Linked DNA regions of Homo sapiens. The protein of the gene in region 3 purifies or fractionates together with the protein of the main gene of each other region. This does not show direct contact. Each region holds a gene or a part of one and is shown on either strand. Other genes may lie near its edges.

Region 1 (7,000 bases), on a different chromosome or scaffold from region 3:
TTTTGTCTCCTGCTCTTTAAATGGAGGAAATTGTTCATGTAGGAAAAGACCAGGAAGTGTGATTCTGCTTTCTGCTCTGTGTGGTTCAAGCTCTGTTTTGTTAATTACATGTTTATACCAAGGGGTGGAAAGGTTTTAATTCATTAACACAAGAGTGTGTTTTTCTTAAAGTCCTATATTAGAACTTCTGTGAATCCAGACTGCCTTGGCAATGAATATTTTGATTTTCATGGCTTTTGAAACATGAAAATACCTCTGGAAATAGTCTGGTGCCACTGGGGACTTCACTAAGAACTAAAATTAAATTTTAGTAGAAGGCAGAAAGAAAACTCATGCTTTCATAATGGTTTATATCTTGCTGTCATCAAATGCTTTTCTTTCTTCAGCATGTTTGCTGTGACTGCAAGAAGGATTTTTGCTCCGTTTGTTCAGTCTTACAAGAAAATCTCCGTAGATGTTCTACTTGTCACTTATTACAAGAGACAGCATTTCAGCGCCCTCAGTTAATGCGACTGAAGGTGAAGGACCTGCGGCAGTATCTCATTCTGAGAAATATACCCATAGATACTTGTCGTGAGAAAGAAGACTTGGTGGATCTAGTACTGTGCCATCATGGACTAGGCTCTGAGGACGACATGGACACAAGCAGTCTGAATTCTTCAAGGTCCCAGACTTCTAGCTTTTTTACACGTTCGTTTTTTTCAAACTATACAGCCCCCTCTGCTACTATGTCTTCGTTTCAGGGAGAGCTTATGGATGGAGACCAAACATCCAGATCTGGAGTGCCGGCACAGGTACGAGGGGGTAACTAATTACACCCAGGGCCCGGCACGCTTATTCTTGGCCGTATATGGTGGGGCCTTTAGTGCTTGATGACTTCTGATAAACTTCAAGTCATGTGCTGGAGTGAAGCTTCCACACCCAGCTGAACTCTGCACTTAAAGGCTGTCCTGATGTATAGTGTCTGCTGAGGTGCTAGGTGGCTCCAAAGTCTGCTGTCTGAAGGGTCCCAAAATAGCTCATCAGTCTCTTGGCCTTAGTTAATTTCTCTGTCTTACACAGTTAGACACTAACTGTTGAAGAAATGGCTGTGAAAAAGTAGCACATACACATTTGTAGTGTTATGTGTTAGTGCACGTGTTTCAGTGACCACAGAAAACAATCAGTAGTGTAAGTTAGCCTAATGCCCATTTGTCTTGCTACAGTGAAATTGTTCTAATTTAGTTAATGAAAGAGCCATCTGAATTAGTGAAAAAATGTAGTTATTTACTAATTGTAATTAATAATATTGTCCCAGTGAGGTCCTTGGACATCCTGATTGAATAACATGTAAAGGCTTGTAATTAATATTTACTTGTACGTGAGTGATTCTAAACTGCTGAAAGAAATGTTTTGAACAAATTTTTTCACGCTTAATTTTCTTCTCTGAAGAAGGGGGTTATTAAAAGTAGAGGAAAGCTGGATGCGGTGGTGTGAGCCTGCAGTCTGATACTTGGCAGGCTGAGGCAAGAGGATTGCTTTAGTTCAGGAGTACGAGGCTGCAGGTGTACCATGATTGCAACTGTGAATAGCCACTGTACCCCCAGCCTGGGCAACATAGCAAGACTTTTTTTTTTGTTTGGAGGCAGAGTCTCACTCTGTTGCCCAGGCTAGAGTGAAGTGGCGAGATCTTAGTTCACTGCAACCTCTGCCCCGCTGGGTTCAAGCAATTCTCCTGCCTCAGCCTTCCGAGTAGCTAGGATTACACCCCAGTTAATTTTTGTATTTTTAGTAAAGATGGGGTTTCACCATGTTGGTCAGGCTGGTCTCGAATACCTGACCTCAGGTTATCTACCTGCCTTGGCCTAAGTGCTAAGATTACAGGCATGAGCCAACCGCGCCTGGCCAAGAGTGTCTTTTAATTAGTAAATGAATAAATGCAGAGGGAAATTTGGTCTAATTGCCTTCTAGATATAGTCCTGTGTCCTCTAATAATGTTTTGGTCAGTGATAGACCACATACACGGCAGTGGTTCTGTAAGATTATAATACCATATTTTTATTGTACCTTTTTTGTGTTTAGATATGTTTAGATACACAAATACTTATTACTGTGTTATAGCTGCCTACAGTATTCAGTACACTAACGTGATGTACGGCTTCGTAGCCGGCCATGCCCTATAGCCTAGGTGTGTAGCAGGCTGTGCCATCTAGGTTTGTGGAAGTACACTGTGATGTTCGCACAATGACAAAATCGCCTAAGGACACATTACTCAGAACGTCTCCTAGTCGTCAAGCAACACATACTGTAGTCGTAAATTAGATAAGTCCAAGCCAGGAGTTTTATTATTCTCCCAAATGAGAATTGGCATATTTATGCTGCAAACATAAGGCACAGCTGACTTACATACCCCTTTTGGGTATACACCACCATTTGGGTGATGTGGATTGTTGGATGCTACAGTATGGTGCCTGGCAATCAGGGTGGAATATTTGAAATTGGGAACCGACCTAGCTTATTGGAGAGCTATTGTCAAATATAGTCAAAAGAAAATATGTGAAGGAAGGTACATAACCCAAACTGAAGAGATTTGTGTTTTCTAAAGTGTTCTGATTGAGAAATTTTAAAAACTAGAATTAGCCTCAGCCATCAGTGAAGTCTAGAAAGCCTTCGTTGGAATTAGATTGTCTAAGTACGCTGTGGTAGGACTGAGATCTTTCAAATCAGATGCCCCTGATGCTTGGGCTGACCCATCAGAGCTTTAGCTTTTTTCTGTCTGCATCTTACAGGCTCCAGTTAAACTAGCCATTTGCAGGTACTTTGATAATGACACAGTGCTGTCCCATATCCTTAATGGCTTTGGCATTCCATTATGGGACCTTCCTGAGAGAGTTAATACTCTGGTTAGATTTTATAACTTTACACACACACAGGAATTTGTGTTTTGAGCTAACTTTATGGAAGGTAGGTTCTTCATGCAATTTTGTAGGGCCCAACTTTTTGGAAGGGTCAGCAGCATTCTGAATCCAAAGATGTGCATTATGCTGGCTTTCTGGTCATCATGGGGAGCATCAATGACAAGGTTTTCTCTAGTGATAAATACAGATTGATTCCTGACCTAATCAGATACGTTGTATAAGTGTAGGTACAAAGTGAAATCACTTCAGCAAACACAGAAGATGATGATGACGACGATGATGAGGATGATGATGATGAAGAAGAAAACGCAGAGGATCGGGTGAGGCCACCTATAAAATTTGGTTTCCCTGACATGTCAGCCTGACAGGAAGGGACAGTGCCCTGTGGACATTCGCTAGATTAGTACAGGATGTTTCTTCTGGTTTGAATGTAGGACAGTATACTGAAACACTTCTAGGACTGCTGAGATGGCTGGGAGAATATTCAGGGCCAGTGATGAGTTTAGAGTGGGGAGGGTCTGGACTTATGGGACCAGGGCTAATGGATGCTCTGTGGTTTCAGAACCCCGGGCTCTCCAAGGAGAGAGTGAGAGCTTCACTGTCTGACTTGTCAAGCCTTGATGATGTGGAAGGAATGAGCGTGCGCCAGCTGAAGGAAATTCTGGCTCGGAATTTTGTCAACTATTCTGGCTGTTGTGAAAAATGGGAACTGGTAGAGAAAGTAAACCGGTTATACAAAGAGAATGAAGAAAACCAAAAGTCCTGTAGGTTTATCTTTTCATTTTTTCCCTGTAGTATTTTTCCTTAGGCTTTTAAAAACTGGGTTGTTTTTGTCACAATTAAGTCAAATTTATTTTTGAGAAAGCTGTGTACCATTTTACTGAGTATCAGTTAGTTACATGAGCCTGTTTATAGATCTGGAAAGGAGTAACTTCATTATGTGATGTTCATTATGGCTGCGAGACCACCACTGCCAAGTGAGTTAGAAAATTATTCAATTTGGTTTTTCTTACTATAATTAACTATTTGTTACAACCCTAATTAAATTCCTCGTCTCTGTAAAAATGCTTATTTTCTCACTAATGCCTTTGGCCGGCCAGTACCTTGGTTCTCTCAACTTTTAAATCTAACAGTAGGGGGAAAATTCCCTATAGCCCAGATGTTACATAGTTCTTAGCATCAACTATCTGTAGATTTCTGTGTAAGTCACAAAAAGCTGAGGTTAAGAACTTCTGAACTAGGCTGGGCTTGGTGGCTCACAACTGTAATTCTAGGACTTTGGGAGGCTGAGGCAGGAGGATCACTTGAGCCCAGGAGTTTGAGACCAGCCTGGGCAACATAGAGAGATCCCATCTCTAAAAAAAAAAAAAAAAAAAAAAAAAAACCAAAAAAACCTGGTGTGGTGGCACCAGCCTGTGGTCCCAGCTACTTGGGAGGCTGAGGGGGGAGGATTGCTTGAGCCTGCAGGGAGCCGTGGTCATGCCACTGCACTCCAGCCTAGGTGACAGAGCAAGACTGTCTCAAAACAAAACAAAACAGAACAAAAACTTCTCAACTATACATTGATGAAATTTGGCACAGAAATTCTTCCTCAGCTGGTAACACGATCAAGCCACGGAACATTTATGGACAAGAAAAAATAATTCAGTTGTATTTATTTTTTTCTTTTTAATTGTAAAAAAAATATATATGTACTTAATATTTTTAAATTGAGACAGGGTCTCACTATGTTGCCCAGACTAGTGCTGAATTAGGCGTGGGCCACCATGCCTGACCCTCAGTGGTGTTCAGACTAACAAATCTTATGTTCCTATCTAGCTTAAACAGCCCTCCCATCATTAACTTTTATCATCTTGAGTTTTGTCCTTTAAAAGCTGGTTATAATACAGCATTTGTTGATGAACAGGTTTATGCCCAGAATATGCACAAAATATTTTGGCAATCCTACTTCAAAGATGATGTCACAGTGGTAGATGCAGGAATCTTCATCCTCAGAGCTTTCAGAGGTCGTAGGCTGCTGGCTGGGAAATGGTTTTCTGGCAGTGAGGGGAGAAGTCAGTTGACTTCATAAATGTAAATAGCAACTATGTACAGTGCACAACGATAATGCCATTCCCACCCTTAAGTACTTTGCGGCGTAGGATATAACATGGTTGTTATTATGACAGCATGGTTTCCAGTGTCTTTCTCCATTAACTCACTGCATAATCTAACCCTAGTTCAATCTCTGGCTTGGGTGGAACACACATTTTGTTTTGAGCACAGCTGGCATCTTTCCTAGCTTGACTGGCTCCAAGTCACTACCAAGATTGTTCCCATATCCCTGACAAGATACTGGCTCCTCTGCTTTCCTAAGTTCTAAAGAGTGGGAAGGAACCCTCCACACAGAAGGAGAGACCAAGGCCCACTCTGATTTCATCTTGAGTTGCCTAGTGCCTTCTCCATTGGCATATCTGCCATCTCATCCCATAGATCCTTTCTCCCCAGGTCCACACCAGTAGTCGTGGGCCATGAACTAAGACCCCAGATCACAAGAATCTCTCCCCATGAATGGCAGTAAAACATTTCTCTTAAATCTAGAGACTACTGACCTTTCAAGCTTGAATTCCTGTTCTGTTCCAACTATTCATGATTCCCTTTGATCTCCTCTGACCTGTAGAAAGGGAAGCACCCAAATCCATAGCCCTATGGCCAAATCTCAGGCTGGGGTTAACTTTTTTTTAACTTATTCATCGTCTTTCTTATTCACAGACTGGATTTTCTCAGATGTAAAGGTGGGCCAAGAGCCAGGACGGCCCATCTCTTTCAAGTTAGACTTCAGCAGGGCCAGGAACACAGATGGCTTGAGATGATTCTAAGGCTAGGGAGGGAAGGATGCACAATTATTCCTAACTTTCCTAAGGGGGAACTAAGGCTCCTTTTCCTACTGAGATGAGGCTCCAGAGACTGTGGTGTTCCCAGGGCTACAAAGCTGGGGCAACTGAGTTAAATTCCAATAGCATCCTGACTCCAAAGCCCATCTACAGAAGACCAGCTGAGGGTTTCTTTTTCTAGTTACAGAAGTAATATATCCCTATCACAGATGTCTTGAATTAGACAAAGATATAAAATAGAAATACATAGCTAACATTTGTTGGGTACGTCAAGCATTTTATTCTTTACAAAACCCTGAGGTATAGCTTTTATCATTGCCATTTCTAGTGGAGAGAACCAAAGTGCAGAGAAGTTGGGATTATTTCTTGTACAACACTGGGGTGGCATTGGGCCTGCAGGGGTCATTCAGCAGGTGGCTGCTCAGCTTCGGACTGGGAGGGTGGCTGGCTGACTGGCCATGCCTGAAGCCGAGGCCTTAGCTCTCTGTTGCCTTTCAGATGGCGAGCGGCTGCAGCTGCAGGATGAGGAAGACGACAGCCTGTGTCGCATCTGCATGGATGCCGTCATCGACTGTGTCCTACTGGAGTGTGGGCACATGGTTACCTGCACCAAGTGCGGCAAGCGCATGAGTGAGTGTCCCATCTGCCGGCAGTATGTGGTGCGAGCCGTGCACGTGTTCAAGTCCTGAAACAGGCTCCCCTCACCAGGACAGTCACCCCCAAACTTGACCCCCAACATTTCAATGCACAGAAGGGACTGGAAAGTTATGTTCAAAGGCTGAAGCTATTTTAAAACATTATTTTGACTACTAAGTGGGGACAGAAAGATCCATCCTGAGTTGTGGAAACATTGGTCCATGCCGTGAGCCTGTCTGCCTGTGGACACGTGAGCTTCCCGGGCTCAGCTGGGCTTTATCACACATCCCGTGAACACTCATTGAAGTCAGCCTGTTTGCGCCATGTGGGCATCAGCCACTGCTGTCTTGGGAGGACACTTATCCTGTTCTCTTATTTCCCCTTCATCCTATTTTTAACTTAAACTGCTCAGATGTTTGAAACTTCTGTCCTCTTTGGATGAGATCAGTGTCCACAAGTGGCCGACATGGAACATGCTGAGCAGTGGCTCCTCTGAATGTTCACTTTATTAGTCATGTATATTTTAAATGCTAACATTTGATGAATGTAAGTTTCCACATTGTTGCTGTTTCTGCATTTAAACATAATTGGGAA
Region 2 (7,897 bases), on a different chromosome or scaffold from region 3:
TCTCAGAACATGGTTTGAATGGAATAACAAGTGAAAGTTTAAGTCCCACTTCCTTCTCAGACTCCATAGTCAACTTCATTCTGCTTTTTGTGCTACAGAGAGGAGGAAGCACTAAACTTGAAGTTGGAAAATATGAACTCTGACCACCACTGCTCATTTAGCTATGGAACCTTGTCATTTCTGGGCCTGTCTCCTCATCTATAAAAAAGCCATACTTGGCTGGGCATGGTGGCTCACGCCTATAATCCTAGCATTTTGGGAGTCCAAGGCGGGTGGACTGCCTGAGCTCAGGAGTTTGAGACCAGCCTGGGCAACATGGTAAGACCCCGTCTCTAATAAAAATACAAAAAATTAGCTGGGCGTGGTAGCACTTGCCTGTAGTCCCAGCTACTCAGGAAGCTGAGGCAGAAGATTCACTTGAACCTGGGAGGTGGAGGGTACAGTGAGTCTGGATCGCGCCACTGTACTCCAGCATGGGCAACAGAGCAAGACTCTTCCTCCCCACCCCCTACAAAAAAATCAAAAAACCATATTGACCTCCCAGCTCCAAGGCTCAAAGGCACTACATGCCTTCCTACCCTAGGGCCTTTTTATGCTGTTTCCTCTGCCTGGAATGCTCTGTGAGCTTTTTTTGCCAGGCTAACTTTTACTTATCTCCAGGGGTCAGCATAAACTTGCATTTTTAAGAAAAGTATTCCCTTCAAAAAAAAAAAAAGTAGAGGATGGGCATGGTGGTTCATGCCTGTAATCCCAGCACTTTGGGAGGTTGAGACAGGAGGATGGCTTGAAACCACCGTGGGCAACATAGTGAGACCCTGTCTCTACCAAAACAGAAAAAAAAGTAGAGAAAACCCTCACCCCTGGTGCACTCTTACAGCACTTATCTCAATTGTTTACCTTAACTATTATAGCATTTATTGCAATTGTTACAATTATTTATTGTCCATCTCTAGGATTATTAAGCACCACAAAGCCAAGAACTATGTCACCACTGTACTCAGCATTTGGCTAAGTATATGACACAGAAGAATCCAACAAATATTCTTTGAATGAAAGAAAGAATGCATAAACTAATGCATCTAGAGGCTTTATGCCTCTAGACTATTGTACTGTGAAACCTTTCACAATTTTCTAAGAAACAGGGTTCAAGACAGGCAACCTATATTACACAGCTGTTAGAAAAAGTTACTGGAAATCGGCCGGGTGCGGTGGCTCACGCCTGTAATCCCAGCACTTTGGGAGGCCGAAGCGGGCGGATCACAAGGTCAGGAGTTCAAGACCAGCCTGGCCAATATGGTGAAACCCCATCTCTACTAAATATACCAAAAAAATTAGCCGGGCGTGGTGGCGGGCCCCTGTTGTCCCAGCTACTCGGGAGGCTGAGGTAGGAGAATCGCTTGAACCCGGGAGGCAGAGGTTGCAATGAGCCAAGATTGTGCCACTGCACCCCAGCCTGGGCGACAGAGCAAGACTCCATCTAAGAAAAAAAAAAAAAAGTTACTGGAAATCATTCGAGTTGAAGGACTCTGTAAGCTTAAAAAAAATCTTTTTTAAGAGACAAGGTTTTGTTTTTAAGAGATGAAGTCTCGCTATATTGCCCAAGCTGGTCTCAAACTCCTGGACTCAAGCGATCCTCCTGCCCTGCCCTCCCAAAGTGCTGGGATTACAGGCATGAGCCACCACGCCCAGCCTAAAAAAATTTGTTTTAGGCATTTCCACCCCTAGCTCTCTCCAGAAGTCTGTTATCACCAGTGAAGAGAAAATCCCATGCTCCCTTGCTGAGGAAGTGACCCACTGGTAGCCCAGTCCTTGCATTCAAGATGAAGGAAGTGACTGTCCACAGACGGAAAGCCAGGAAGCAGGGGGCAGATAGCCAGCCCCCCTCCACCTCAATACCCTCTTGCCGCCTCTCCAAAGCTTCTGGACGCTGACCCTGGTGGACCCAGAGGTGGGCCACCCACACAGGTGGCTGGGAAACATAGGAGACAGAAGGTTCCTACTGCTGGGGGAAAAGATGGGGAAGGCAGGAAGCTGCAGGGTGGTGTGTGAGGTGGCGGGGAGGTGACTGCAGGTGCAACTAACCCAACTCTGAAGCTACCCTTCACCCTTAGACAACTCTTCCTTCCAGGAGGTGTTTGGCCGAATCCCTCTAGTCTTTAGTCTAGAGAGGCCAAGGGAGCTTCCACAGGAGGACTCAGAACCCCAGGTGGCCTACTTTCGCCACCTGTAGCAGAGATCTTTGGGCCCCAAAAAGAATGGTCCGATCTCTCCTTACCCTTAGTCCTGTCCTAAACCTCAAGGGGCTCCATACTCCCTTATTTTCTGCAAAGAGCTCCCAGCCCCGGGGGACTCCCAGACACCAAGATGCCCGCGAGAAGCCTTGGGTCTTGGCAGGGAAGTCACATCCTCCATTTCCCTCAGAAAACCCAGAACCCGGGGTAACTCTCCTAATTGTCCTGAACCCTAGAGGATCCTGTACTCCTCAAATTCCACAGAGCTTCCACTATAAGAGAACCCCATGCTTTTCAACTTCCTTAAAAAGGGTTAATTTGGGGGTCTGCGGCCGCCAGGTCCCTCCAAAAAGCTGGATTCCTGGCAGACCCAGAATCTCTTCCTCCCCGGGACCTCAACTCGCGGGAAGCCTCCCAACCCGCCTGCCCCTCGGAGCCCTCTGTCTCCAGGATGCCCTGCCTCCCCATTCCCGGAGTCCCACCCTCCAAATGCCTGGGGAGCGCTGTGCCCACCCCGCCTCCCAGCTTTTCTGAGGAGCTCGGACCCACGAGGACCCAACCAGCCCGAAACCCCCGAGAGACAGCCGGTTTCCCTCAGGCGCCATGGAACCGGACTTCGGAGATAACAGCGGGACAGGGCGGAGCAGCCCTTCCTTACCCGCCAGCGCGGACATGGTCCCGGGAGCGCGGAAATGGGGAGGAGGAGGCGGGGGACACAGCAGCTCCCCTCAGTTCCCTACAACTCCCCTCAGCTCCTGCCGCCGCCGCCTCAGGCGCGGGAAGACCACAGCCCCAGGCGCGAACGGGATGCACCGCCTACGGCGCCCTGGGAGGACCAAACCACACCTGGCACAGGGGACTGCCCGCCGACGCCCCGCCCCGCCGCTCTCAGGCCTCGCTCCCGAGACGCGGCCCCGCCCCCTGGCTCTGGCTCGGGCTCTGCAGCGGCCCTGGCGCCCCCTAGTGCGAGCGGCGTCCCCTCGAGGTGCTCCCGCCGGTAAGGTTGATTCTGCGGGGGCCGGAAGTCTCAACACGGATGACAGTCCGCACCCATCTAGTCGCCCTCATTTACAGATAGGGAAAGTTAAGGATCAGAGGCTAAGTTCGACTACATTGAAATGGCTTCGCTCATTAGGAGGAGAGCCGGGATGGGAGCCCAGGCCTGCTAACTGCCAGTTCAGAGCTCTTTCCAGTAGTGTTTGGAATCAGGAATATTACAATGGAGGAGCCAGGTCTATCCCACAAACAGCTTTGAGGATGGACTTTTCTTAGAAGCTTCTAGCTCAGAGAAACCACTTCTCTGCGCCACTATGAGTAAGCTGACAGTAAATAATCTCTAAGTCAAAGACAGTTGGAGGCGACCAACCAGCATTCCAGGAGCAGATCCTCAGCCAGGCCAATTAGGTTTAGCGCAGGACGCTGGAGCTTGTGCGCCGCATTGGAAGACGAGCACTCCCCTGCAGGAACATGGGCCTACCATTCCCAGGTCTTCCAACCTTTCAAAACATGCCAAAAATCCAGATATTTAGGTGAAATTTGCCACTTTTAAAAAATGTTGATAGCATCAAAAAGTTCTTAAAATGCCATGTAGACCAAATGAAACACACCTGGCCACTAGATTTGCCCTGTGGGCTGCCAGTTTACAATCTTCTATGAGGAGGAGGGATTACAGGACTAAGAGTTAGGACAGCTGACTGGGTTATGGCAGCTGCTAGCTGGCTGAGTAGCTTTGAGAACCACTTCCGCTCATTAGGTTTGGAAGGAGATTGGGGTCCTCTGTGTGATTAAGATATTAATACATCATCAGCCAGGCCAGCTGGTCCCTGATGACCCACCCTCCCATCAGATTCTCTCACGCTGGGTCTTTCACAATTGTCATTTCCTTACATCAGATTTAGATCACAGGAAACATGTCCAAATGACCAGAAAGAGGATGGAGCCCAGGGAAATGGATTCTGTCCCCTCCACCCCCACCCCTGACCAAAGACAAAGTTCAACCCAGCTGCCTCTGGTCCCAGCAGTTGGGTAAGCAAAGGCAAAGGCAAAGACAAAGGCGAGCACAATTCTCTTCCTTCCTGCTCTAATTCAAACCGGATGCCGGTCAGATTTTTCTCTTCTGGGTGTGGCAGGTGGCTCACGATGTCCTGAGTGTGCACAAAGTGCTGGGGAGGAGGGCTCTGTCCCATTTCCGTTAATTCCTGGGAACTCTTTTCAGTACTCAGTTTTGTAGTTTCTGAGGAAATCATTATAGTAAACACAAGATTGTGTATTGAATTAAAGTGACAGGAATCCAGAGACTCTCCTGACAAGCTGCCTCATGGCTAGCAAACAGGGGACAGGGACTTTCCCCATCCTTCCTACAGAAAGATGTAACACTGTATTTTCCCAGGCAACAAAGCACTGGCATCCTGGGAACCAAAACCTCCTGGGTGTCTTCCCTCTCCCTCCGTTCCACACCAAGGCACCCAGGTCTATCTCTTCTCCCTCCTCATTCTCTCTCACATTCCACTTCCTCCTACCTCCAGCCTCATGGTCTTCACCAGCAGGGAGCTGGGGAATAGCCAAGTCCCCCAAGTTCCTCCCAGGGAAGTTCAGGCGACTCTGAGAAACACAAGTTGAAAATGTAATGGAAGGGAATAGCTTTCTATAGAAATGCTATAGCCAAGAGATATATTTTTAATATGGACCCAAAGAACATTCCAGAAATCACTTGTGAACTCAAGGGGGACTTCTGGAGGGTAGAGAAAGCCTGGGCAGGGAGTAGACCAACTGAGTTTCAATAGCACCCAGGTTACCTGTCCACAGTTTGTTTCACTGGCCATAGCTTGGTCAGTCCCTAGGGCCAGATCCTGCCAGCCGCCTCACAGTCAACTCTCTGAGCCTAGGATCCTGAAACCTGGACCTTGAAAAACAACTCAAGGTTCTGCCCTCTTGAAGGTACTGGTCCACTGGTACCCAACCAGACTTGCCCAGTGTCACTTCCACTTGCTTCAAACTGAGCCAGTCTCTGCCCTCCCTGAATCATCCTACCCAAAACTGACTGTGTTAATCTTCCAAAAGTATGTTTCTGGACCTGTCATCTCTCTGTTCAAAACCCTTCAACAGCACCCCACTGCCTACAAAATAAAAGCCAAACCAGTCCTCATGAGCTGACTACATCTCACCCTGCGGACTTGTCTCCCTATTCCCTTCACTCCAGGACTCTGCTTTTTCCTGAGCACATCCTGCCTTGCGCCACCTGCCATTCCTACAACAACCAGCTCTCCAGGTTCTCTGTAATTTTGTGCCCCACTCTGCCCAGAGTGCAGTCTTGTTTCTCAACTCTAAATGATATAGTGGCATCTGTAACATCACAAAGTAGGACTACCAGACATTAAGTGCCTCCAGGTAAGACGCACCAAGTATATACTATCACCTATGACGTAGTCTTACAAAACAAAAATAATAAGCTTGAATCTGGTCAAGCTTCTAGATCTAACAACCAACTTACAGGAAATACATGGAGAAGAGGAGCTTAATAACATTTCCATGATGCAAATAGCAAAAATGATGCTGTGGGAAATGCAACAGGACAAATAACCTAGTTTCTTTAACAGATAAACTGCAGAGTAGAAAAAATTTCATAGACAGGCCAGGCAAGGTGGCTCACCCCTGTAATCCTAGCACTTTGGGAGGCTGAGGCGGGTGGATCATGAGGTCAGGAGCTTGAGACCATCCTGGCTGACATGGTGAAACCCCGTCTGTACTAAAAATACAAAAAAAATTAGCCGGGCGTGGTGGCGGGCACCTGTAGTCTCAGCTACTTGGGAGGCTGAGGCAGGAGAATTGTGTGAACCCAGGAGGTGGAGCTTGCAGTTAGCCGAGATCCCGCCACTGCACTTCAGCCTGGGCAACAGAGCGAGACTCTGTCACACAAACACACACACAAAAAAACAAAAAATTAGCCAGGCATGATGGCGGGCGCCTGTAGTCCCAGCTACCAAGGAGGCTGAGGCATGAGAATCACTTGAACCCGGGAGACGGGGGCTGTAGTGAGCTGGGATCGCATCACTGCACTCCAGTCTGGGCGGCAAGTGAAACTCTGTCTCAAAAAAAAAAAAAAAAAAAATTCAGAGACAAATAATAGCAATGTATGAAACTGATTTGGATCTCAATTGAAACTACACAAGTTATGAGACAACTAGGGAAATCTGAACAATGTGATTGGATATGATGATTTTAAGAAATTTTTTAAAGGTATTTTGCTTTTTTTTTTTTTTTGAGATGGAGTCTTGCTCTGTCGCCCCGACTGGAGTGCACTGGTGCGATCTCGGCTCACTGCAACCTCTGCCTCCCGGGTTCAAGCGATTCTCCTGCCTCAGTCTCCCGAGTTGCTGAGACTACAGGCGCCTACCGCTACGCCTGGCTAATTTTTTGTATTTTAGTAGAGACGGGGTTTCACTATGTTGCCCAGGTTGGTCTCAAACTCCTGAGCTCTGGCAATCCGCCCGCCTCACCCTCCCAAAGTGCTAGGATCACAGGTGTGTGCCATCGTGCCCGGCATATTTTGCTTGTTTTTAAAATACTTGAGATGCATATCGAAATACTTAATAAATGACATGACTGGGGTTTGTTTCCGAATAGTTCAGACAGTGGGAGAGGAACAGCGTGCGGGAGGTATAGATGCAACAAGACTGATCTGAGTTGATAGTTACTGGAGTTGGGTTATGGCTACATGGAGGCTTTATTGTCCTGTTCTACTACTGTTTTTTTTTTTTTTTCCCCATCGAAAACAAAAACCTAAGGCCGGGCATGGTGGCTTAAACCTGTAATTCCAACACTTTGGGAGGCTGAGGTGGGAGAACCTACTGAGACCGGGAGTTCCAGGCTGCAGTAAGCTGTGATCACACCACTGCACTCTAGCCAGGGCACCCGAGTAAGACCCTGTTTCTAAAAGGGTCTGTTGCCCTGGCTGGAATGCACTAGCATGATCACAACTCACTGCAGCCTTGACCTCCCAGGCTCAGGTGATCTTCCCACCTCAGCCTCCCTCCCGGGTAGCTGGGACCACAAGCATGCACCACTGTGCCTGGCTAATATTTTTTATTTTTGTAGAGATGGAGTCTCCCTGTGTTGCCCAGGCTGGTCTCAAACTCTTGGCCTCAAGCGATCCTCCCACCTCAGCCTCACAAAGTGCTGGGGTTTGTAGGTGTAAGCCACCATGCCTGGCCTAAAATTAAAATCTTTCAAAAAAAAAAAAAAAACCTGGTCTTTTCTCATTGGGCTTATGAGCTCCTGAAGTTCCCTCACCTTTGCATTCCCCACTGTATCTTGGTACTATTCAATTTGATAACTGTTAGATCAAAATCTAAGAGGAAGAAAAAAAGCTCTTTTCAGAGGAATTACTTGTAGCTCTGGCATGTTGGGAAGGCTGAGGCTGGGCCAGATTTGTAACCTCAGCAACATCTTCCATCTCACACTACACCCTGCTACTAAGGAACCTTAGGGAGGGACACACCTTCTGCTCGAGAGAGAGGACTTGGCTGACAGCCCACCTGCCCTGTTACTAAACAGATGGAGAGACGCTGACAGTGAGTAACCTGATTGTTCTAAAGGCTCTGATAAGTGACAAGCTAAGCTCTATTGTGGCAGCTTGTCACTTACGAAGCTCAGGAATGCCATGTACT
Region 3 (3,462 bases):
CCAGGACTACTTTCTCCATGGTGGTGGCTCATAGCCAGGGCTGCGTAAATGACCTCTAAGGGGGTTCTCTCTGCTTGCTAAGACTTCCTCCCATTTGGAGATCAACAAAGGATGAGAGCAAAGTTGGCCTCCTCCCACCTGCCATATCCCAGGCTCTGGGCTTGAGTCAGCAGAGCTTTGGTTAAGCTGCTTAAGGGAGCTGGGCTGGTGTAAGCTTCTTACTGAGAGGAGGGGGTTTGGAGGAGAGGAGGAATAGGGAAGGGGTTGTTCACCTGCCCCAGCCCCACCCATATCAGGGAAAGTCCCCTTAACATCAGCCTCACCTGATACATCTAGATGTCATGCCAGGGGCAGCTGTGGGGTGAGGGTAGGAGTATCCTCCAGAGAAGGACAGTGACTCTCCCAAGACAGAGCTGTGTGGCCCCCTTTACAGGTGGTTCTCAAAGGCAGGGTACCAGAGAAGTTGATACACTGAGTTGCAGTAGAAGAGACAGGTCAGACTGCAGGAAGTTGTTCCCATATGAGAAGAGAGGCTCCCACCAGGCTGGATACCTAATTCTCCCAAAGTCATCTAGCCAGCCTTGGCAGAGCGGAGGCCAGAATGAGGACCCTCAACTCCAGAGTGGGAGAGAGAGTGTTCAGGAGGTGGCCTTGTCCTCTACCCTTCTCTGCCCTGCCCTTCCCTGGCCCCCAGAGACCAGTAGGATGGCACTCCTTATCCCCTGTTAGATCCCCATGGCGGAGTTATGTCTCTTCCACACTGGGGGTGTACCCCAAGGGCAGGGACTGAGGTCCCTCTTTCCAGAGGGCAGTGATCCCAGGGATGAGAAGATGGTAGCTACTCTGGGGTCCCACACAAGCTGACCTGGCAGCAGGGGCTTTGCGGCCCCTTCCTTGCTCAGCTGCCTGTTTCCCCTAGACTACCTCTGCTCCCCTGAGGAGAATATCTACAAGATCGACTTTGTCAGGTTTAAGATTCGGGACATGGACTCAGGCACTGTCCTCTTTGAAATCAAGAAGCCCCCAGTCTCAGGTGAGTGGGCTGGGTGGGCCATTGATGGGGAGGCAGATAGGAGCTGCGGAGTGGGCTGCCCAGGGAATCCTTGGGCCACAGAGGAGTCCACAGAGCTGGGGCTTGGACCCCAGCATTCTCAGGAGTCTGCAGGCAGGGGGGCCCTTTCTTTTCCTTCCCATATGTTTCTGAGGCTGGACATCTTGCGAGGTCAGCCCTACCCCTTCGGTCCCTGCCAACCTGCCCTCTGCAGGGCTCTCTGGGAACTGCAGTCCTACGGGTCCCAGGCCTCAGCATCCTGTGGCCCGGGGAAGCACAGTGGCGATTGGGAACATGCAGACCTAGAACCCCTAGGTGGCACTATTTGGCCAATGGTCTGAGCCCTCAGTGTGCCCCGGAATTTCTTGGGGAGTTTAAAAAAAATCAGATAGATGGGGACCCAAGGGTAGAACCCTGGGTGGACAAGGGCCCAGCCTGAAGCCCACTGAGCCCCAGCTGGGGTACATTGCAGAACGGTTGCCCATCAACCGGCGGGACCTGGACCCCAATGCTGGGCGCTTTGTCCGCTACCAGTTCACGCCTGCCTTCCTCCGCCTGAGGCAGGTGGGAGCCACGTGAGTCGCTGGGCTATGGGTGGTGGTGGGGGTGAGGGAGAGGGTGTGAGTGGGCCCTTCTCAGCCTCTCGTAGGGGTGGCCTGTCCTGAGCCTGGCTGGCTAGTTGACTTCAAGGACAGACTTAGCCCTGCCTCCTTTTCTTGCTCAGGGTGGAGTTCACAGTGGGAGACAAGCCTGTCAACAACTTCCGCATGATCGAGAGGCACTACTTCCGCAACCAGCTACTCAAAAGCTTCGACTTCCACTTTGGCTTCTGCATCCCCAGCAGCAAGAACACCTGCGAGCACATTTACGACTTCCCCCCTCTCTCCGAGGAGCTGAGTGCGCGGGCAGGGTCTTCTGGGAGTGGGGAAGTGGGGGCGTCTAGAGACTGAGCTGCGGGAGGGAGAGGGACTTGTGGGTCTGATCCCATTTCTCCCCACCCTGGGGCTCTTCTGTGTCTGCCACCATTCCCATATCATCCGTAGAGAAAGAGGCTGGGGATATTTCAGGCTGTTTGGCTGTCCCTGTACCCCAGTCCTGAAGCCCCTGCAGTGGCGGGACTCAAGCTCCTGACCTTTGCCCGGCCTGGCTGGGCCTCTCTTGCAGTCAGCGAGATGATCCGCCACCCGTATGAGACCCAGTCTGACAGCTTCTACTTCGTGGATGACCGGCTGGTGATGCACAATAAAGCAGACTATTCCTACAGCGGGACACCCTGACCCCACGGCTGCCCTGACCCCAGGAGGCTCCAGTTCTGGGCTGGGAGCTGTGACCTCCCCAACGCTCACCCCTCAACCCCAAGTCCTCTGCTTGGGGAGTTCTCCAGGAGCTCCGGACCCTGAGTCAATGTTGGGAGGAAGGGTACCTGGTGTCCCCAGTCAAGCCCATGAAGCCCATGCGGCCTGCTACATGGGGTGGGGTCGTAGGGAGGCTGTTTGCCTCCACGTCTAGGAAGGCCTGTGAGAGGAGCAGTCAGGACTTCCGGACAACTTAGCTGGGCCCTACTTGGGCCCAAGTTTCAGAATAGTGTTCCCCTATCAAGGCTGTGACTAGATCAGGCAGGGATCCATTCCCTGTCCCCTGCCCACTACCTTCAGGCCATTTAGAGTTGTAAATTTACAAAGATCCACGGTGGGCTCCAGCTGCCAAGCCACCCAAGGGAGTCTGGGCCCTAGGCCTAGCCCCATCCCTCCCCATGAGGGGCCAAGACACTGCCTAAGGTGTGGGAGGGACTGGCTGAGATTGCAGCCCATGGTAGGAGCTGGACCAACTGTATATAGTTTTCAATAAACTTTTTCCTTTTCTGTTCTCTGGTGTGGCCAGCCTCTGTGTGTATGGGCAAAGAAGGGAGCAGGGATAGGCAGGAATGTGCTTAAGGCAGTAAAAATTTCTCCTACCTCCCACATTCCAGTGCACTCTCACCCCTTAGTCTTCCTGTCCCCTGATTCTCTGTACCCTGACACCATATAGAGTCAGCATTTAGAACATGATGGAGCTGGAGAGGGTCTTTCTTGTGATGAAGGAGACCCAGACCCTGAGAGGGGAAGCTTTGGCCCAAAGTCAGAGCCAACCCTGGCAGAACAGAGGCCGAAACAAAGGCCCTGAACTCCAGGGTGCAAGGGGAAGGTGTGGGGGGTGGGGGTTTGGCCTTGTCCTCCACGCTACCTTCCCTGAACCCCAGAGGCCACTAGGACCACTGGGTTGTGTTTTTAGCCCTCATGATAGACGGTGGCAGGGCTTTGGCTAAGGCCTGGAGCCATCTCCTTGCCCTCAGCTGCCTTGGGGAGCCCCCATGCCTGGGTAGCCCTGCACATAACACTGCCCTCAGCCTCCACCCCCACCCCAGACTCAGA
Region 4 (7,045 bases), on a different chromosome or scaffold from region 3:
CTAAAGGGCATTTCTTCTTGGGTCAAAAATGTTAATTTCCTTGTCCAGTAAAATGAACTGAGACTATCTTTGAATGCAGTCTTTTGGAGAGGTCAGCCTAAAAAGCCATTAGAATGGTTATATCCATAAGTGACATGTACAGTACATATCAACACAAAGGAAAAAATGGCTCCATATATTTCCCATGAGGTCCATCTTACGAAGCATCAAAATGAACCTAAATGATACGCTGCTTAAGGATATCATCAAGGGTTAAGAGACTGAACGGAATAGAAAATGAGTAAGATGAGATTATATAAAGGCAACACATCTGTAATACCTATATATATATATATATATTTTTTTTTTTTTTTGAGATGAAGTCTCACTCTGTCGCCAGGCTGGAGTCCAGTGGTGAGATCTCGGCTCACTGCAACCTCTATCTCCTGGGTTCAAGTGATTCGCCTACCTCAGCCTCCCGAGTAGCCAGGACTACAGGTGCGTGCCACCACGCTCAGCTAATTTTTTGTATTTTTAGTAAAGACGGGGTTTCAATATGTTGGCCAGGCTGGTCTTGAACTCCTGACCTCATGATCCACCCACTTCAGCCTCCCAAAGTGCTGGGATTACAGGTGTGAGCCACCGTGCCTGGCCAATACCTATATTCTTTACCTTAACTTCAAAGACAACATTAGCTGGTGAAGTCAACTTTGAGACAAAAAAAAAAAAAGCTAGTCACACAATTTAAATACACATCTGTGACAAACATCAACTGATTTAATAATTTTTATCACTGGATGCCAGTGCTTAGTAGAAGGACTCTTCTTACCACCTAAGTGGCAATACTTTTAATATGATTATACTTTTTTATTTTTATTTTTTCAGACGGAGTTCCACTCTCATTGCCCAGACTGGAGTGTAATGGTGTGATCTTGGCTCACTGCAACCTCCATCTCCCCGGTTCAGGCGATTCTCCTGCCTCGGCCACCCGAATAGCTGGGATTACAGGTGCCTGCCACCACGCCTGGCTCATTTTTGTACATTTAGTAGAGATGGGGTTTCACCATGTTCACCAGGCTGGTCTTGAACTCCTGATCTCAGGTGATCTGCCCACCTCGGCCTCCCAAAGTGCTGGGATTACAGGTGTGAGCCACCATGCCCAGCCTAATATTATACTCTCGATAACAATTTTGCTGCAAGAGCATAATTATGATCGAATATTTCCTTTGCAAATCTATTTCTCTGAAGTGTGGTATTATTAATTTTGATTCTTGCCTTTTTAAAAAAGAAACTAAAGACTATTCTCTCCATTTCTATATTATTTATTAGATTTTTACATTTTACATGTTTTTTCATTTTTCTTGGGGGTAAATGAAGCACCTAACGCTTTATATTTTTTTAAAGCTGCTCTGAGACAAAAAAAAATAATCAAACTTAGGGTCTTGGTAAGCTTGGTGTTAAAGCAGTAAGGTTCTGGTACTCACTGTCTTTATAAAACACAGACCTCTACCATCATAAACAGCTCACCATGGAGACATCTGGCCAACTAGTCTAACCCTCTCTGACAAATGGTCCAGGAATCAATGATTCATCTCTTCAAATATTTGCTTGCATTCAGCCATAGTACAGATCAGTGAGAAAGAACACTTTCTTTTCTTTGAAAATAGGACTGCAGAATTACACTGCCTAGGAAGGAAAAGCTGATTACAAGAGTGACCATAAAGAAGAAAAACCAGACTTTGGGCACTAAATTACTATTGTTATAATCTTCACCTTATCATTCCAAAATAGTGTTAGAGGATGTGACTTTTTTTCCAACCCTCCCCCACAAAGGCTAAGTCAAATAGCATGAATAGCAAAATGTGTAACATCCTGAAAATTTTAATGATGTTCTCTCATTAGAAAATGTTTTCGGATTTTTCCCTAAGTGTGTTAAAGAGATAGCTTCTATCATCACATTTACTCCCCACTCCCAATATTTTATTATGAAATTTTCCAAACATACAGAAAATTGAATTAGAGTTCACTGTAAACTGTGAACTATATACCCACCACCTAGATTCTACTACTAACATTTTACTAAACTTGCTTTATCCCCACCACCTAGACTCTACTACTAACATTTTACTAAACTTGCTTTATCGCTATCCATCTCTTATCCATCATTAATCCATTCAGTTTTTTTTACATATTTCAAAGTAAACTATAGGCATCAGTATACTTTCTCTTAAATAATTCAGCATGCATATCACTAATTAGACTTCAATAAACTTCAAGTTTTTAGGAGTCGAATTTACATACACTGAAATGTGCAAATCTTTTTTTTTTTTAAACGGAATCTCATTCTGTTGCCCAGGATGGAGTGCACTGGTGTGATCCCAGTTTACCACAAACTCTGTCTCCCGGGTTCAAGTAATTCTCCTGCCTCAGCCTCCTGAGTAGCTGGGATTATTGGCACATGCCACCACACCCAGCTAATGTTTGTGTTTTCAGTAGAGATGGGGTTTCACCATGTGGGCTAGGCTGGTCTCAAACTCCTGACCTCAAATGATCTGTCCACCTCGGCCTCCCAAAGTGCTGGGATTACAGGCGTGAGCCACCGCACCCGGCTGAAATGTGCAAATCTTAAGCACAGTAACGTGCTGAGTTTTATCAAATGCATATACCTGTGACTCAAACCCTATCAAGATAGAGAACATTATCTAGAAACATATTTGCTTAAAAAAATACAAAAATTAGCCAGGCACAGTGGCGTGTGCCTGTAATTCCAGCTACTTGGGAGGCTGAGGTGGGAAGATCACTTGAATCCAGAAGGTGGAGGTTGCAGTGAGCCGAGATCATCCCACTACCCTCAAGCCTGGGTGACAGAGCAAGACTCTGTCTCCAAAGAAAAAAAAAAAAAAGCCTGCAGAACACCCCAAAGACCACAATCTTCTTACTGAAGATTGTGTTTAAATAGGGAAAATCTCAAGTCAACAATACTGATTTGGTAATGCATGAAGATTACACTTGCCAGCTGAAACAGAAACTACCTAAAGATGTTTCAACAAGAGTGTTTCTGTCTTTAGACTCTAAAGCCTCTGGTATTTCATTGGGGAAGGTAAGAAGGGGGTAGATTGTGAAATATTTGGTTGGAATTTTACTTTTCCCACAAAAAGAAAGGTTGTCTTGATGAGGCGTTTTTACTTGCCTCCCAGATGTCCAAAGCTATCTAACCGTAGGTTTAGGTCACACAGAGTACCATTAACTCCTGAACTGTAACTGTCAAGAAGTCTGGGAAAAGCACTGGATGATTCTGACATTTCCCTTATGCACTGAGGATCTTTAAGAAAGCACACCTTTGAAAGTAGGTATTTTTTTCTGGTTGAAAGACTATCTGAGCAGGGCATGGTGGCTCACACCTGTAATCCCAACACTCTGGGAGGCCAAGGCAGGCAGACAGCTTGAGCCCAAGAATTTGAGACCAGCCTGGGCAACATGGCGAAACCCTGTTTCTACAAAAAATACACAAATTAGCCAGAGTGGCGGCTTGGACCCTATAGTCCAGCTACTGGGAAGGGCAGTGGGAGTGAGGGGTGGGAGGATCGCCTGAGCTGGGGAGGTCGAGGCTGCAGTAAACCATGATCGCACCACTGCACTTCAGCCTAGGAGACAGAGTGAGACCTTAAAAAAAAAAAAAAAAAAAAGAGTCTCTGGAAAAACCTTCCTCTAAAAAGTTGAGAGCTTTTTTAACCTAGTAGCAGTGCATCTGTGGTCAGAAAGAATTACAGAATATAGTCCTGACCTAAAATGGTACAAAGGAGAAAAGACAAATCCTTTCAGCATTCAAATAATTTACTAAAAAATAAAATTTAGGCCTAGGATAGAGTAAGGAATTTCCGGAAGCAAATAATAGTAAAAAAGGGGAAGTAAATAATCCCTGCCTGAAATCTTAAGGATTGAAAAATTTGCCTTGGACTCCCAAAAAATACTAAGGAAGAATTGAGGTAAATGCTTATGACGGTTGCAGTACAGGGAAGAAAAACAAATGTAATATTCCGTAGTACTTGTGGTTTTCCCCCCAGGAGGCCAAATAATAGGAGATCATGTGTTATTCAAATATACACAAATCTGAAGGAAAAGGATTTTTCTATTACAGAAAACTCTCTGCTCTTAAGAAAAGCAAATAAAATATATAAGCAGCATGAATATCAACATTTTCCTTAATGATGTCTACTTTAAATGATGTCTAAAACACTCATACTGCATACTCATTTGGATACTTATTAGACCCTAATATGTATTCAATAAATATCTTAGGTGAATTTATTCTAAAATCTGTAACATAAAGTCTCTCCAAAATATTTACCATTTTGAAAAACTGAGACAACACCATTCAATAACTATATATCCAATGCTTATATGGCAGGCAGTGAGGAAAGACGGAAAAAGGTCCCTCATGCTCCTGACAAAGGGAGCTGGGGTTAGGGACAAACTTAGCTCCCTACCCAAAGACTACAGATAAAGCATCTACTAGAAGGAGGCCTCTTGTTCCATCAGTTTTCCAGTGTAAAAGGAACTTTGGTAACACTGAAGTACCTCTGTGTGAGCAAGTTTTTAGGTGACTATACAAATCAGCAATAGCAAAAGGGGACTAGAGAATCTATCTTTGCATTGTAACACATTTATGTCTTACATTATAAGCCAAAATATTGTTGGTATAAATATTCCTGCCCACACAATGAAAAGTAAACAAAAAAACCTATAAATTAAATTGATAAAGATGAAGTTAAATAAAAATTCTAATAAAAAAAGAGGAATCATGATGAAAACTGACATTATTTTGAGACAATTCAGATGATGCACCCCAAACTAAGCATACTTCCTGAATACTGCAGGAATCCCCATTCTGCATATGACATGTGAGAAGCTTGTATTGGTGCCAGGTTTCCCAGGACAGACTTCCTGGGCGAAAAAAGTATTAAGAGACCACAGTAAACTCCAATATTGTTCTAGTTTTAGGTTATGAATACCATGTTTTAGTAATCCTTAGTAATTCACTTGGTAGGTTATTAATAAGTAGCCCTTAGGCATACCTAAGTATGAACAACTATGAAGCAATAAAAACTTAAAAAAACAAACAAACAGTGCTATATTTCCCATGTGGAGGGACTGGGCAGAAACCACATCTTGAGAATCACTGCATTAAGGGAACACAAGAGCGAAAACAATTCTTCAGGAGGTAGAGGGGTAAGAAAAAACTAACACTGAACATTAAACTATGAGGTAATATACTTGCTGAGTAAGGTATTTCAAACCTTCTATTTGAGGTACATAGGACCTATGAAATTACGCCTGGAAACTATAATTTCAAGCAACAAGAAAGCTATGTGCAGAGTTCATTCCTTAACAAATTTAAGGAGTACATAAATTCCTTACTATTTCAAATGTATTCTCAGTTTTCAAAAGCTCAGAAACAAAGCGGAATGTTCTCTAAGAGGCCACCACTATTTATAAGATAACTTTTCCTGATTTAACCTTGTATATACCACACATTTATCTAAAGTTACTACTTTTACATATTTAACCAGCAACCACTCCCTTTTGGAATGGACACATTTGTATGTTTTCTCTACTCACAAAGGTTGGCAAGAAAAGGATTTCAAAAGCTGACTTACTGAATGATAAACCAAAGGGAAATATTCACTCCTTTGCACTTCTAAAAGTTGTAAAAGTCCCCTCCAAAAGGCTGTTGCCCAAGTTACGGCATTTACTACTTCGTGATTATTCTGCTTTTCAATTTTCTAATTTGAATATCAGGGAAAAAACTACCCAAATTCAATGATAACTGCCTTGAAAATGCCAAAAGCTTGAAGAGAAGCTAAATCCATAGTTTATTATCCCCAAATAATTCTTTTGAAATAGATTGCTGGTTCCACTGTGTTTCCCATTTGTGGTGACTACTGACTTTCCACTTATTTTGCAATCCTGAGACTATCACACCCCACTTTACAAGTATCCTACTAAAAAATACAGAACATTTCCTATTTATTTATTTGAGACAGGGTGTTGCTCTGTCACCCAGGCTGGAATGCAGTGGCTCACTGCATCTTCAACCTCCCAGGCTCAAGAGATTCTACCACCTCAGCCTCCCAAGTAGCTGGGACTATCTGCATGTGCCACCACGCTGGGCTAATTTTTGTATTTTTTTGTAGAGATGGGGTTTTGCCATGTTGCCCAGGCTGGTCTTGAACTCCTGGGCTCAAGTGATCCTCCCGCCTTGGCCGCCCAAAGTGTTGTGATTATAGGTGTGAGCCACCATGCCCAGCCATAACTTCCAATCTTAAGTAGTGTAATAGTGATTACTACCTTCAAGAATTCCTAACATTTTCTCCAAACTATATAGAGTGTGAAAGAAAGCTGTATTTAAAAAGATGCAAAGGGATTTCCCACTTCATTAGAACAAATTACTTCATTGTTAAGGAAAGCATATACAATTCTCAACAGACTAAATTAAGCTCACGAGGCCAGGCATGGTGGCTCACACCTGTAATCCTAGCACCTTGGGAGGCCAAGGTGGGTGGATGGCTTGTGCCCAGGAGTTTGAGACCAGCCTGGGCAACATGGCGTAACCCTGTCTTAAAAAAAGTGCAAAAATTGGCCAGGTGTGGTGGCTCGCACCTGTAGTCCCAGTTACTTGGGAGGCTGATGTGGGAGGATCACCTGAGCCTGGGAGGTAGAGGCTTCTGTGAGCCGTGATTGCACCACTGCACTCTAGCCTGAGAGACAGCATGAGACCCTGTCTCAAAAAAAAAAAAAAAAGAAAAGAAAAGAAAAAGAAAAAACAGAAAAAAAGAAATACAGAATAATTGTTTGTTAAACTCTTGACAAAACACACTTTTTTTTTTTTTAGCCTCCAGGCCCCACAGTGCTACATAACTCAGATTTGTTGTTTTTACCTGATTCACTACAGATTAACACACTATTATACAAAATGCTAAGTTTTTATTTCCCTTTGATACTTACTAAATGAAAAGTTATTTTGCTGACAAAAGCAGAAGCCCACATAGAGTATGCTGGTATACCT

The links.
Region 1: the proteins of UNC119 (region 3) and RNF34 purify together in Homo sapiens (affinity purification with mass spectrometry; 4 studies listed by BioGRID and IntAct, with this or other methods). This does not show direct contact.
Region 2: the proteins of UNC119 (region 3) and LIMK2 purify together in Homo sapiens (affinity purification with mass spectrometry; 4 studies listed by BioGRID and IntAct, with this or other methods). This does not show direct contact.
Region 4: the proteins of UNC119 (region 3) and RSPRY1 purify together in Homo sapiens (affinity purification with mass spectrometry; 4 studies listed by BioGRID and IntAct, with this or other methods). This does not show direct contact.

What each region holds. Positions count from the first base shown.
Region 1 is NC_000012.12:121,417,118-121,424,117, forward strand, and holds part of RNF34 (E3 ubiquitin-protein ligase RNF34), read left to right. Parts: intron 1-386; coding exon 387-794; intron 795-3,124; coding exon 3,125-3,217; intron 3,218-3,459; coding exon 3,460-3,661; exon of another isoform or gene 3,662-3,874; intron 3,875-6,268; coding exon 6,269-6,459; 3' UTR 6,460-7,000. UniProt on the Homo sapiens protein: E3 ubiquitin-protein ligase that regulates several biological processes through the ubiquitin-mediated proteasomal degradation of various target proteins.
Region 2 is NC_000022.11:31,207,417-31,215,313, reverse strand, and holds the start of LIMK2 (LIM domain kinase 2), read right to left. Parts: upstream 3,017-7,897; 5' UTR 2,906-3,016; coding exon 2,890-2,905; intron 1-2,889. UniProt on the Homo sapiens protein: Serine/threonine-protein kinase that plays an essential role in the regulation of actin filament dynamics. Acts downstream of several Rho family GTPase signal transduction pathways.
Region 3 is NC_000017.11:28,546,163-28,549,624, reverse strand, and holds the end of UNC119 (protein unc-119 homolog A), read left to right. Parts: intron 1-919; coding exon 920-1,033; intron 1,034-1,523; coding exon 1,524-1,626; intron 1,627-1,775; coding exon 1,776-1,948; coding exon of another isoform or gene 1,949-2,001; exon of another isoform or gene 2,002-2,215; coding exon 2,216-2,328; 3' UTR 2,329-2,917; downstream 2,918-3,462. UniProt on the Homo sapiens protein: Involved in synaptic functions in photoreceptor cells, the signal transduction in immune cells as a Src family kinase activator, endosome recycling, the uptake of bacteria and endocytosis, protein trafficking in sensory neurons and as lipid-binding chaperone with specificity for a diverse subset of myristoylated proteins.
Region 4 is NC_000016.10:57,189,329-57,196,373, reverse strand, and holds part of RSPRY1 (RING finger and SPRY domain-containing protein 1 isoform 1 precursor), read right to left. Parts: intron 316-7,045; exon of another isoform or gene 1-315.